Homo sapiens: one gene and its partner. The protein of the gene in region 1 interacts with the protein of each later gene in a pairwise test. Each region holds a gene or a part of one and is shown on either strand. Other genes may lie near its edges. The genes, in order: TCL1B and AKT2.

Region 1 (3,987 bases):
CCCAAACTTTCTATGAATGCTTTTACAGATTCATTTTGTAAGGTTGGGATTTCAGCCCATGGGTGATTTTTTCTTGTGAGCGACATGAGGGAGGGAATCTCTTCTCCTTGCCACCACTGCATGGTCACCCTGACCTGCACTGTATCGTCCTCTTCTTCCTGGTCACAATGGTGGCACTGCTCAGTGCCTTGGCCCCCTGCCTCATCCCTCCCTGCTCAAGGACTCTGCTCCTCTGTCATGTCATACTCTCCCACACATGGGCCCTTCCTCCCTTGCACCTGCATTCTGCATCTCCTGCAATGACATGCTGTTGCATTGTCTCGCTTTGGGAGCTCTCCCTTGCTCCCGGTTCTCCTGTGACCACTACGGGCTTTCCTGCCCTTTCACAGCAGGGCTTCACCCAGAGCCCGCACGAGTCTCCTCCCCTTCCTTAACTCCCGCCGACGTCCTGCTGCTGAATGGACCAATCACAATTTCCTTCCCAGTGTGGAAAAATATGAAATGGATCATTAAAATGTTACCTTAACATTTCGGTACCAGAAGCTGCCATTTCTATGCTAGAAAGAGGTCAAAGAGAGGCTCCAATTCAGCACAAAAGTGGACAGTGAGCAATAAAGTTTAATTAACCAGTACTGTGAGGTCACCTTCACGGACTAGCATCCCTTCCGTGAGCTGAAGGACTGAATAAGCAGAAGCACAGGCCAAACCCATCCCTCCATGCTCCCCACTGTGCAGATGGGCTCACTGAGGCTCTGGTGTACATTGCTTGCTCAGCACTGGATCTATTTCGGGCCAAAGTGTCAGCAGAACTGATACCCACAGGGCATCCAAGTCCACATCCAGACTGGGCTCCCTCTAATGCCATCTCTTAAACCGAACCACTGCCTGCCGATGGTGAGTTTCCAATCACGAGCTGCACTGGGGGTGCTGGAGGCCTGGCTGGGCACACATCCTGGTGGGTATGAAGGGGATTTGGGAGTGGCATCTAGAAGATCAGCATGAGGGGCACAGAGGAGAAAGAACCCACAGCTTGCAGCCAGCAGGGGAAACTGGCTCAGCACACAGACAGGGCCCCAGTGAAGCCCATCCAGGCCAGCTGCCCTAAGTACAGACCTGAGTGGGACAGGACAGGACTGATAACTAAGGAAAACGAGAGAAACTGAGTGTGCAGGGGCCCTACTGCCTTCTGCCTGCAAGGAGGCTATGCTGGGTGTGCAAACAGAAGAGCAGGTACATGAAGATCCTCACTGAGGGGGCATGAGGAGACACCAGGCCAGAAGAGGCAGGGCCAGCAGGGCCTGCGAGAAGACCAAAGGAGACAGTCAGTGAACTATGGGGGAGCCCGGCACCCCATCCAAGCTGCTGGGGTCAAAGGCAAGTCCAGTGCCAGCCCCTCCAATGGCCCAGGCCCTGCCTGGCCTGCTCCAAGCTGCTGCCCATCTGAGAGGAGCCCTCTATGGGTCAGTGCTGGGTCCTCCAAGGCCACCGTCACACGGCACCTCAGTGCCATGGTTAAATCTAGGGACCCGAGATCACTAGATTCACCGCTATTTCCTGGCTGTATGGTCTCGAGGAAGTCATTCCCATCCCCAGAGTCTTGTCTTTTCGTCGTGAAATGGGACATTAACACGTACACCTCACAAAATTCTCACAAGGATTAAATGATGAGTCTTATTCGATGAGATCCCATGCTTTAGGAACTTATTATGGGGGCCCACCCACTGTGTACCATCACATCCAAGGGGCTGGGGAACAGAGGTGACAGGTGGCTATGTAAGAAAAATCTCAGCAAACAGCAGGGAGGAGGAGGCCACGCCGTCTTTCTGAAAAGAGGAGAGGTCTTCTCACTTTCGTCTGATCCCTACACTGAGACGCACAGGGCCCCAACATACCAGCCACTCCCAGTGTCAGTCTTTCCTCTCCGGCTGATATGTTAGGACCAGCTGCTCCATAGAGTCAATCTGCAGGAGAGGGAGCAGCCATCAGAACCTCTGGGAGATGCTCTTCCAGTTGGCCTTAACGGCCGCCCATGCAGGCTGGCAGCAGCAGCAGGCAGGGGTGAGGCAGGTGGGAACTCCAGCTTGTGGATTTCCCTAGCCCAGGGAAGGCAACCCTCCCTCCCTCACCCACTCTGCCTGCATCCCACATGGGAACTCATGCACCGATCCACCCACACACACTCAGGCCTCCTTGAAGGAAGACTTGAGCAACAGGAAGAGGACAGACAAGAACCCCAAGGGGGCCAGGGGCACAGAAGAGAGAGGGCCACGGCAGTCACCAGGGGCCACCTGTCGCTTTCACCTAGAACCACCACACACTTGCCTGGCCATGGTCTGCTATTTCCCAGAAACTGGAATCCGCTGCTCGGTACTTCCTCCCGGGGTAGAGCTGCCACACGGCGGGCAGCTGGGAGAAGGGCATCTGGCCGGAGGAGAGTAGCTCCCGGGTATGCACTGCCATCTGCCACAAGTGCACTGTGATGCTGGGTTCATACTGAAGGGACCAGAAAAGAGGCGGCAAATCATGGATAGGGTTCCCTGCCAACTGGGCTGCACACAAGCAATGGCCAGTGGGCTGCCAGGGTCAGAGGTAAATGTTTTCAGAATTCCAGACCAAGAGCCTTGGCACTGGTACTTGTGGCTCCATCTAGGATGGCTGGGGCCCTTCTGGCCCCCTCTGACCTGCACCCTGCCTCGCCCCACTGCAATCCCCAAATTTAGCCACTGTTTCCAACCTGTCAACACCTTGGGTTAAAGCTGAGTATTCTCTTGGGGCTCCATCTCTGCCATTGCCGTAATTTTTTAAATCTTCGTTTTAAAAACAAGATATCCATGGACTCTGGATCTGAGGGTGATAGATTTTCCCGCCAAAATATATGGCAGTTCTGATCATGACCTTCACACACTTATAGTAAATATACGAAATAAGGCTGGGAGCAGTGGCTTATGCCTGTAATCCCAACACTTTGGGAGGCCAAGGCAGGAGGACTGCTTGAAGCCACGAGTTCAAGACCAGCCTCGGCAACATAATGAGACTCTGTCTCTACAAAAAATAAAAAATTAGCTGGCCATGGTGGCATGTGCCTACAGTCCCAGCTACTCGGGAAGCTAAGGTGAGAAGATTTCTTGAACCTGGGAGGTAGAGGCTGTTGTAAGCTATCGTCAGGTCACTGCACTCCAGCCTGGGAGACAGAGCAAGACTCTGTCTCAAAATAAATACATAATAATAAAAATAACAAAATTAGGCTGGTACTGGAAGTTAGAAAGATGATAGGAAAAGTAAAACCAAAGCTTCCTACGTTATGCAACAAAATGGAAAGTCTTTTGCACAATTTTCTAAGTATTTGTCTTCTTTTGTGATAAAATGTCTTTTTGAATTAAGAATATTAGTGCTCTATCAATCAGACATGTTGTGAATAATTTTTCTCAGTTTGTCGTCCTCACTTTTTTTATGGACTGCTTTTGCAAAGAGAAGTATTTTAAATTATACGGCAAAATCTCTCCTTCTCTGTGTATTCTGACTGTAGATCAGAGATCAGCAAACTAAGTCTGGCTTGCATCTGCTTTTGCAAATAAAGCTTTATTGTAAATAAACTAAGGCTCCTTCCCTCATTCCTTTACCGTTGCCTTTAGCTGCTTTTGCACTGCAATAGCAGAGCTGAGTAGCTGCAAGAGCATAGCTCTCCAAGTGGAAAATGTTTACCATCAGATCCTTTACAGAAAAAGGTGGCTGATCTTTGCATTAGATGTGTCGCCCAGGAAGCCTAATTCCCACCCTAAGACATCGATCTATTTTTAAGAAAGAAGGGGAAAAAATACTTACTAAGTAGGTCCCTTATCCCACCCGTGGCTAAGTTATTTGAAGAATCCATTCTATTTCCACTGAATCATTTAAAAAAAAAAAAAATCTTAACTGTTTTTTTTGTTTTGCTTTGTTTTGTTTGAGACGGAGTCTTGCTCTGTCGCCCAGGCTGGAGTGCAGTGGCTG
Region 2 (7,284 bases), on another chromosome or scaffold:
ACAGATCCTAGGATCTGACTCCATTCACCAGGGAGCAGCCCTAACCCCCAGCCCTGCAGCTCCCAAGGGCCCCTGCCTGCCCCTGGACATTATTGCTTTTCTGCCCCCATAGGGGGACAGCGGGTGGGGGATTGGACCGCCCCGTGCCTGGCCACTCCGAGCCTAGGCCACGGGGCCTGGAAGGCAGCACCACTGTCTGCCGGGTGTCGCGTCCCACCAGAAGGCAGCCTTCGTCCAGATGCAGCAGCGCGGAGGCAGACACCAGCACGACACCCAGGCCAGAAACTCAGGCAGGCCCCAGGCGCCATGCTTCACCCCTCACTGGGGCTTGTGTGGATTAAAACCTGAATCTCCAACCGCCCAACAGCCCAGGCCTGGGCGGGAGGTGGAGTCTTCCAAATGCGAGTCTGGGCACAAAGGTGAGGCTGGAGGCTGGAGGCAGGGGCTGCAGGGGCCGCTGGGGTGCGTCTGGGAGGGGCCTGAAGAAGAACTGGAAAGGGGGTGAGGAGGTGGGGGTGGGGACACAAACCAAAAAGGCTAAGTAAAAAGTTAGGGGGAAAAAACCACCCAGCGGTGATGGCAGCGAGCGTGCGTCCTCTGCGTGGGCAGACTGCTCACTCGCGGATGCTGGCCGAGTAGGAGAACTGGGGGAAGTGGGTCCGCTGGTCCAGCTCCAGTAAGCCCAGGCTGTCATCTGTGGGCGGCAGAGGTGGATGGGGAGGACCAGTCAGGAGAGGGCCTGGGACACCTGCCCAGACTCCCTGGGGAAACGGCCCCAGCTGGCGGGGGCTGCCCACAGGACAGGACAGGAAAGGCCCATCCCTCCGCAATGGAGGCCCTCAGCCACGGACCCACTCCCCAAACCTGAGCCCCGGGCGGCCTCCTCTGGGAGTTTCCTGTGCCCTTGCCCATGCGCCCCACAGCTGGCAGGGCCTTCTGAGCCTCCCACCTTCTCTCTGCCCCACACACCACCATGCCAGAGTCCAGCCCAGAGCCCTGTCCTGGCCTGCCTCTCGCACCCTCCCATCCATTCTCCACGGGCAGCCAGGGGGGCTTTCTAAAGGCCTGCTTTAACCCTGTCCCTCTCTGTATGAAACCCTTCCATGGCTGGCTCCCGCCATGCAAGCAGTCCCCACCCCTCCCAGTGGCCCCCAGACCCTTGCACTCCAGCCCCATGCCCTCTCTTCTCACCACCATCTCCCTGGCTGCTGCCGGTCCTTAGCTATGCCATGCTTCTCCCATTGCTGGCATCCCACACGTCATTCCTCCGGCCAGCTGACACGTTTGCTTCCTCCTCTAGAAAGCCCTCCCTAACTGCAGGCCAGGTCGGATATTTCCTCTGGGATTCCCCAGTCCCTGGCCTCCCACGCCCTAGCCCTGACCACTCCAGGCCGCCCACCCTACCTGGGCTGGGAGCTTTCCAGGGCAGGGCCCAGGGCTGGCTCAATCAGTGCTGTGTCCCCAGCATAGCCCAGCCCTGGGCTGAGTTCAGAGTAAGAACCCAAACAGCTGTAAAGCAGTGAACCCAGCCAGGCTCAGGGACCGGGCTGCCTCCTGCCCTGAGCCCCCCGACTGAGCTCCAGAACGTGCTGCAGTCAATGGCTCCTGGTGGCCTCACCAGGTCCAAAGAGGACCAACAGCAAAAGGGCCTGAGAGCAGACTTGGGGAAATCTCCCAGACATGAAGCGGGGGCCTTCGAGGGCCCTCCTTGAGAAGTGAGTTAAGAGCAGATCCCATCCCTCCACCCCTGGGGCAGGCACACCAGCGCGGGGGCCCCAGGCACTCACAGCGGTCAGGGGGTGTGATTGTGATGGACTGGGCGGTAAATTCATCATCGAAGTACCTTGTGTCGACCTCGGACGTGACCTGAGGTTTGAAGGGTGGCAGGAGCTACGGAGGAGAGGAGCTCAGGCTCAGGGACCCTGAGGCCAGGAGGCCTCAACCAAGGTCACCACGAGTGGGCCAGGTCCCTGAGGGTCCTGCTGGGGCAAGCAGTGGGGCTCACCTTCTTCTGGACCACGTCCTGCCAGTTGATGCTGAGGAAGAACCTGTGCTCCATGACCTCCTTGGCATCGCTGGGCCCCCCACCAAGCCTGTGCAGAGACGGCCGTCAGCACCTGCCTCCCGGAGCAGCTGGGTTCGGGCAGACGGGCTTTCGGAGCAGGCAGGCCCTGTATGGCCCTTAATGATTCTGTCTTGACCACAAACCACTTCACAGAGGAGGAAACCGAGGCTCAGGGAGGGAGCTCACGTGCCCAGGGTCAGAGCCAGGGAGTCAGCAACCCGGACCCACGTGTCCTCACTGCCTGGCCTTACCCTGAGTCCAGAAAGGGAGTTAGTAGGGCAGGCTCCGTTCCTATCCTGGCTCTGCCACATATGGTTTGGTGGCCCCAGCCAGGCCCAGGGGATGCCCTGTTCCTCAGTGTCCCCATAAAATAAGGCAGTGTCAAGGATGGGCCTGCCCTGGGGGAAGCACTCCCTAAGTGCCACTGTGGACGTTTTCAGGGGCTGTGTGGGGACGACACACTGCGACCCTACAAGCGAGCACCCTTGTGGACGCTGCCCCCTCCAGGCCGCAGGGACAGTGGCAGCAGCTGGCGCTGGGCTGGGTGGGGCCGACGCCAGCCCTCACCTCTGCTTGGGGTCCTTCTTAAGCAGCCCAGCAAGCAGGGACTTGGCCTCGGGGCTGAGCGTGCGCGGGAAGCGGATCTCTTCCATGAGGATGAGCTCGAAGAGGCGCTCGTGGTCCTGGTTGTAGAAGGGCAGGCGGCCGCACATCATCTCGTACATGACCACACCCAGCCCCCACCAGTCCACGGCCCGGCCATAGTCATTGTCCTCCAGCACCTGAGGATGGAGGAGAAATGAGGGCTGGGCCCGTGGCCCTGAGGCTGGCATCACAGTCCTGCCCTCAGGGCATCTGGGCTGGAAACACACAGGTCTGGGGGATCCCCCTACCCTTGGCCTCACACGTTCCTACCCCCACCAACCCCAGACACCTCAGGCGCCAGGTACTCCGGGGTCCCACAGAAGGTTTTCATGGTGGCCCCGTCACTGATGCCCTCTTTGCAGAGGCCAAAGTCAGTGATCTTGATGTGGCCATCTTTGTCCAGCATGAGGTTTTCCAGCTGTTGGAAAAGTCAACGGATCTCAGGTGCATGCTCCCAAGGCTTCCTGCCACCCCAGCCTTTCCTTCCAGGGAAAGATGCCCGGGGCTCCTGGACATCAACCCTCCCATGCCAGGCTGGGCCCAGCACACACAGCCTCACCCTCTGAGGCTCAGAGAGAGGCCAGATCCAACCCTCCTCACCCTCTGGCCCACCCCCATGGTACCTGGGAACAGCTGGGCAGGGAGAGCCGAGAGCCAGGCCCTGTCCACCCACCGTCCCCATTGTGAACTGTGGTTCTTATTTCGAACGTGGGGGCACTAGCTTTCTTCTATTCTTTTTTTCTAGACTTTCTGTCCTTTAATTATGAAATATGCAGCCAGGCAAAGTGGCTCACACCTGTAATCCCAGCAATTTGGGGGACTTAGGTGGCAGGATTGCTTGAACCCATGAGTTTGAGACCAGCCTGGGCAACACAGCGAGACCCCATCTCCATATTTCTTAATATGAAAAAAAAAATTAGCCAGGCATGGTGGCACACACCTATAGTCCCAGCTACTTGCGAGGCTGAGGTGGCATCTCCCCCTGGAAGGCCCTGTGTGCCCCTCCCGGTTACTGACCATCCCCCACAAGAATTAACCTCTACTTCCCATCTGTACCACTGCACACAGACACACCTGTGAACTGTGGACTCACCTCCTCTGTGCGGCTTTCCCTCGACATTAGCCTATGAGACGCGTCCACACTGTCGTGTGTAGCTGTAGCTCATTCCTAACTGCTGTGTGGCGTCCCACTGTGAGAACACTCCACAGTGGATCTGACTGTTCCTCTCACAGTGGATACTTGGGTTGTTCCAGTTGGGGCTAGAGTAAGTCCTGCTGCTGAGTGAGGGGGACACTTTCTAAGGTGAGTGTGTGTCCCCACTTCTCCTGTGCACACAGCTAGGGCAGATGACTGGTGCTCAGCTTTGGTGGACACTGCCAAACTATCTTCTAAAATTGGCCGGGCGCGGGGGCTCATGCCTGTAATCCAAGCACTTTGGGAGGCTGAGGTGGGTGGATCACAAGGTCAGGAGTTTGAGACCAGCCTGGCCAATATGATGAAACCCCGTCTCTACTAAAAATACAAAAATTAGCTGGGCATGGTGGCGGGCACCTGTAATCCCACCTATTCGGGAGGCTGAGGCAGGACAATCGCTTGAACCCGGGAGGCAGAGGTTGCAGCGAGCCGAGATCACACCACTGCACTCAACAGAGTAAGACTCCTCAAAAATAAATAAATAAATAAATACAAATAAAGTAGGTATTGTGGCAGTTGACACTCCGCTAGTGGCCTAGGAGCGCTCATGGGAGGCTTGGGAAGGTCCCTACTTGGGGCAACTTGCCACAGAGCCACCACCCTGGACCTTGGTGGGGAGCCTGGTGAATGAGGGCAGCCACCACCCTGGACCTTGGTGGGGAGCCTGGCGAATGAGGGCAGCCACCACCCTGGACCTTGGTGGGGAGCCTGGCGAATGAGGGCAGAAGCTCAGCCCAACTTCCCCAGTGTGAGTCCCATGTGGTGTGCATGCCACAGGTCAGCCTGGCGCACACCCTGCCACTAACCTTGATGTCGCGGTATACCACGTCCCGCGAGTGCAAGTACTCAAGAGCCGAGACAATCTCTGCACCATAAAACCGGGCCCGCTCCTCTGTGAAGACACGCTCCCGGGACAGGTGGAAGAACAGCTGCAGGAGGAAGGGGTGGGGAGAGGAGGTCAGGCCCCAGCCCACCCACCTGCCCTCACCTTCCCAGCCCCCTGCCCCAGCGCAGTGATGTGGTGACACCTGTATCATGAACCAGCAAGTGACAGCTAGAGGGACCAATCAAGGCAGAGCGCAGAAGCTCATAAGTGACACAGAGCTGGGGGGAAGGGCGAGGGTCTGCCAGGAGGCACCCATGAGAGGGTATGGGAGAGACATCCGAGACAGGAGGGAGGATGGCATGGAGGCAAAAAGAAGCACACGTCATGACCAAGTAACAATAGGCCATGGGCAAGCCCAGATCAGACAGATGAGCAAACCACGCATCCCAAAGCAGGTGTGCCAACCACTGCACAGAGAAGGCGCGAGGCAAGGAGTGGGTGACAAAAGTGAGGCGACTCTGTAAGGGGAAGCTGAGCGGCTGCGGGAATTCACTTCGAGAGGACACGGGAACGGAGGGCTGCTAGGTTTTAACCCTTGGGGGCTTTCTCTGGGGCCTTTAAGACCATCCTTCCCAGTGCTATCGCCCCACAGCCCTCTCCACACCTCTCTGGACTGGTTTGGACCTGACCCACCCACTCACTAGCTGTGTAAACTTGGGCAAGCCACTTAACCTCTCTGAGCCTCAGTGACTGCCCCCCCAAAATGGAGACGAAGCCGCCTGCCTCAAGGGAGAGGGGCACTAGATGACACTGAAATTTCCCTCCACCCTTCCATCTCACCCACAGCTCCTCTCCATCCCGCCCCACCCTAAAGAAGGAGGCCCCAGAGGGCAAAGTCAAGGCAGCCGCGGCTCACCTCACCCCCGTTGGCATACTCCATCACAAAGCACAGGCGGTCGTGGGTCTGGAAGGCATACTTCAGCGCCTGGGGGATGAAGGCAGCAGGGTGGGAGGTGGGAGGGAGGAGGGCTCTGCTGAGCCATGCCAGGGCAGGGCCCTGGCCCTGCTTATTCTGCACACACACACCCTGCCCTGGCTGGGGCCCCCAGGAGTCAGCCATATGGGGTTCACATACCGGCTGCACCTTTTGGGGCATTAAGTGAAGGCATGGCTCTGCGGTAGGAAAGGGTTACATGCTGAACCATCTTGTCCTCTGCCTCCATCAGGCACAGCCAAGGGAGAACTAGAGCTGTTCTGAGCAACCATGGCTCTTGTTTTTACAGTAAAATGTGTTCAACTTACACACACAAGTGATGTCTGCTGTGGCTGGGAGTGGCAAAGGCTTGGGAGCCAACTTCAATGACAGGATGGACAGGCTGTCAGTCAACAAACAGTAGTTCTCCACTGCACTAAGGAGATCTACAGAGAGTTCCTCAGAGACTCCCACCAGGGGGTCCTTCAGCTCATGACAACTCAACTATTCTGTTTTCTGCACTGAGGTACCTCATAAGATTTTATTTGAAAAAGTACTGTGGCTTAATAGGATACCTGGACAGCAACTGAGATAAAGAAATGATACATAAGCCATCCTCAATCTAGTCCATTTAACTGGTGGCCACTGGCCTTGATGGAGACTGCAGCCCAAACAGGCATCTACTCAGTCCAGGCTGACAGACAACACAATGCTAACACATCTGCTTCTATGAGCATATCTGAAAACAAAAACAAAAAAAATAATGTTTCCACTTCAACCAGCTGGGCTAAGTGCTCCTAACTCATAGAGACAGCAGCCAGCAAATAATGTGATATCTTCAGTTAGTTCAAATGCTTACATGAAGCCACCATCTATGAAGAAGCTGTCACCCTCCCACTCCCCGAGCCTGCTCACCCCCACCACATGTCTTGGTTCGGATGACTTGGCAGGGCGCAGCAACACCTTGCCCTGCCCGCCTGGCCTACCCCAAGACTGTGCTTTGTACCAGAAGATTAGGGCTCTCTCTCTGAGCTCTGTCCAAAGGCTGGCCTCACACTGTCTGGGAAGGGGAGGGCAACTCACAGTGAGGAACGGGTGCCTGGTGTTCTGGAGGACCCGGCTCTCGGTGACTGTGTGAGCGACTTCATCCTGCAGACAGACTGCGGGTGAGGGGCTGGTGGGCAACACCACACCTGCCCACTCCGCCCCGACGAAGGGGAGCAAGGCCTTGTGAAATGCAATTCCATTCCCAGCCATAAATGCAGAAAATCACAGGAGTGAAAAGTGAAAGCCTGCAAACCCTCAGCAAATAGCAGACCCAGACGAGGATCATCAGTGGCTCTCAAAGCCACAGGTGAAAAGTCAGCAGGAATGTCACAATGTAAGGACCAGGCTGCTAGGGACAAGACACCTGTGACGTCCCTGCAAGGGAGACAAACAGACATCACGAGAGCCCCGAGGTGCCACCACAGGCTGTGGGAAGTCCCACCTAGAAAGCATTCTTGCCCAAAGAAGGAAAAACAGTGCTTCTTGGTGTGGTCCCCACACAGCACCTCAGCACCGCCTGGGAACTGGCAGCA

What was found.
Region 2: the proteins of TCL1B (region 1) and AKT2 interact in a two-hybrid assay, tested with the Homo sapiens proteins (one study listed by BioGRID).

What each region holds. Positions count from the first base shown.
Region 1 is NC_000014.9:95,689,242-95,693,228, reverse strand, and holds the end of TCL1B (T-cell leukemia/lymphoma protein 1B), read right to left. Parts: intron 2,494-3,987; coding exon 2,323-2,493; intron 1,962-2,322; coding exon 1,908-1,961; 3' UTR 1,893-1,907; intron 1,299-1,892; 3' UTR 601-1,298; downstream 1-600. UniProt on the Homo sapiens protein: Enhances the phosphorylation and activation of AKT1 and AKT2.
Region 2 is NC_000019.10:40,233,258-40,240,541, forward strand, and holds part of AKT2 (RAC-beta serine/threonine-protein kinase), read right to left. Parts: intron 6,854-7,284; coding exon 6,788-6,853; intron 5,717-6,787; coding exon 5,648-5,716; intron 4,835-5,647; coding exon 4,712-4,834; intron 3,129-4,711; coding exon 3,000-3,128; intron 2,848-2,999; coding exon 2,633-2,847; intron 2,094-2,632; coding exon 2,006-2,093; intron 1,891-2,005; coding exon 1,788-1,890; intron 695-1,787; coding exon 615-694; 3' UTR 1-614. UniProt on the Homo sapiens protein: Serine/threonine kinase closely related to AKT1 and AKT3. All 3 enzymes, AKT1, AKT2 and AKT3, are collectively known as AKT kinase.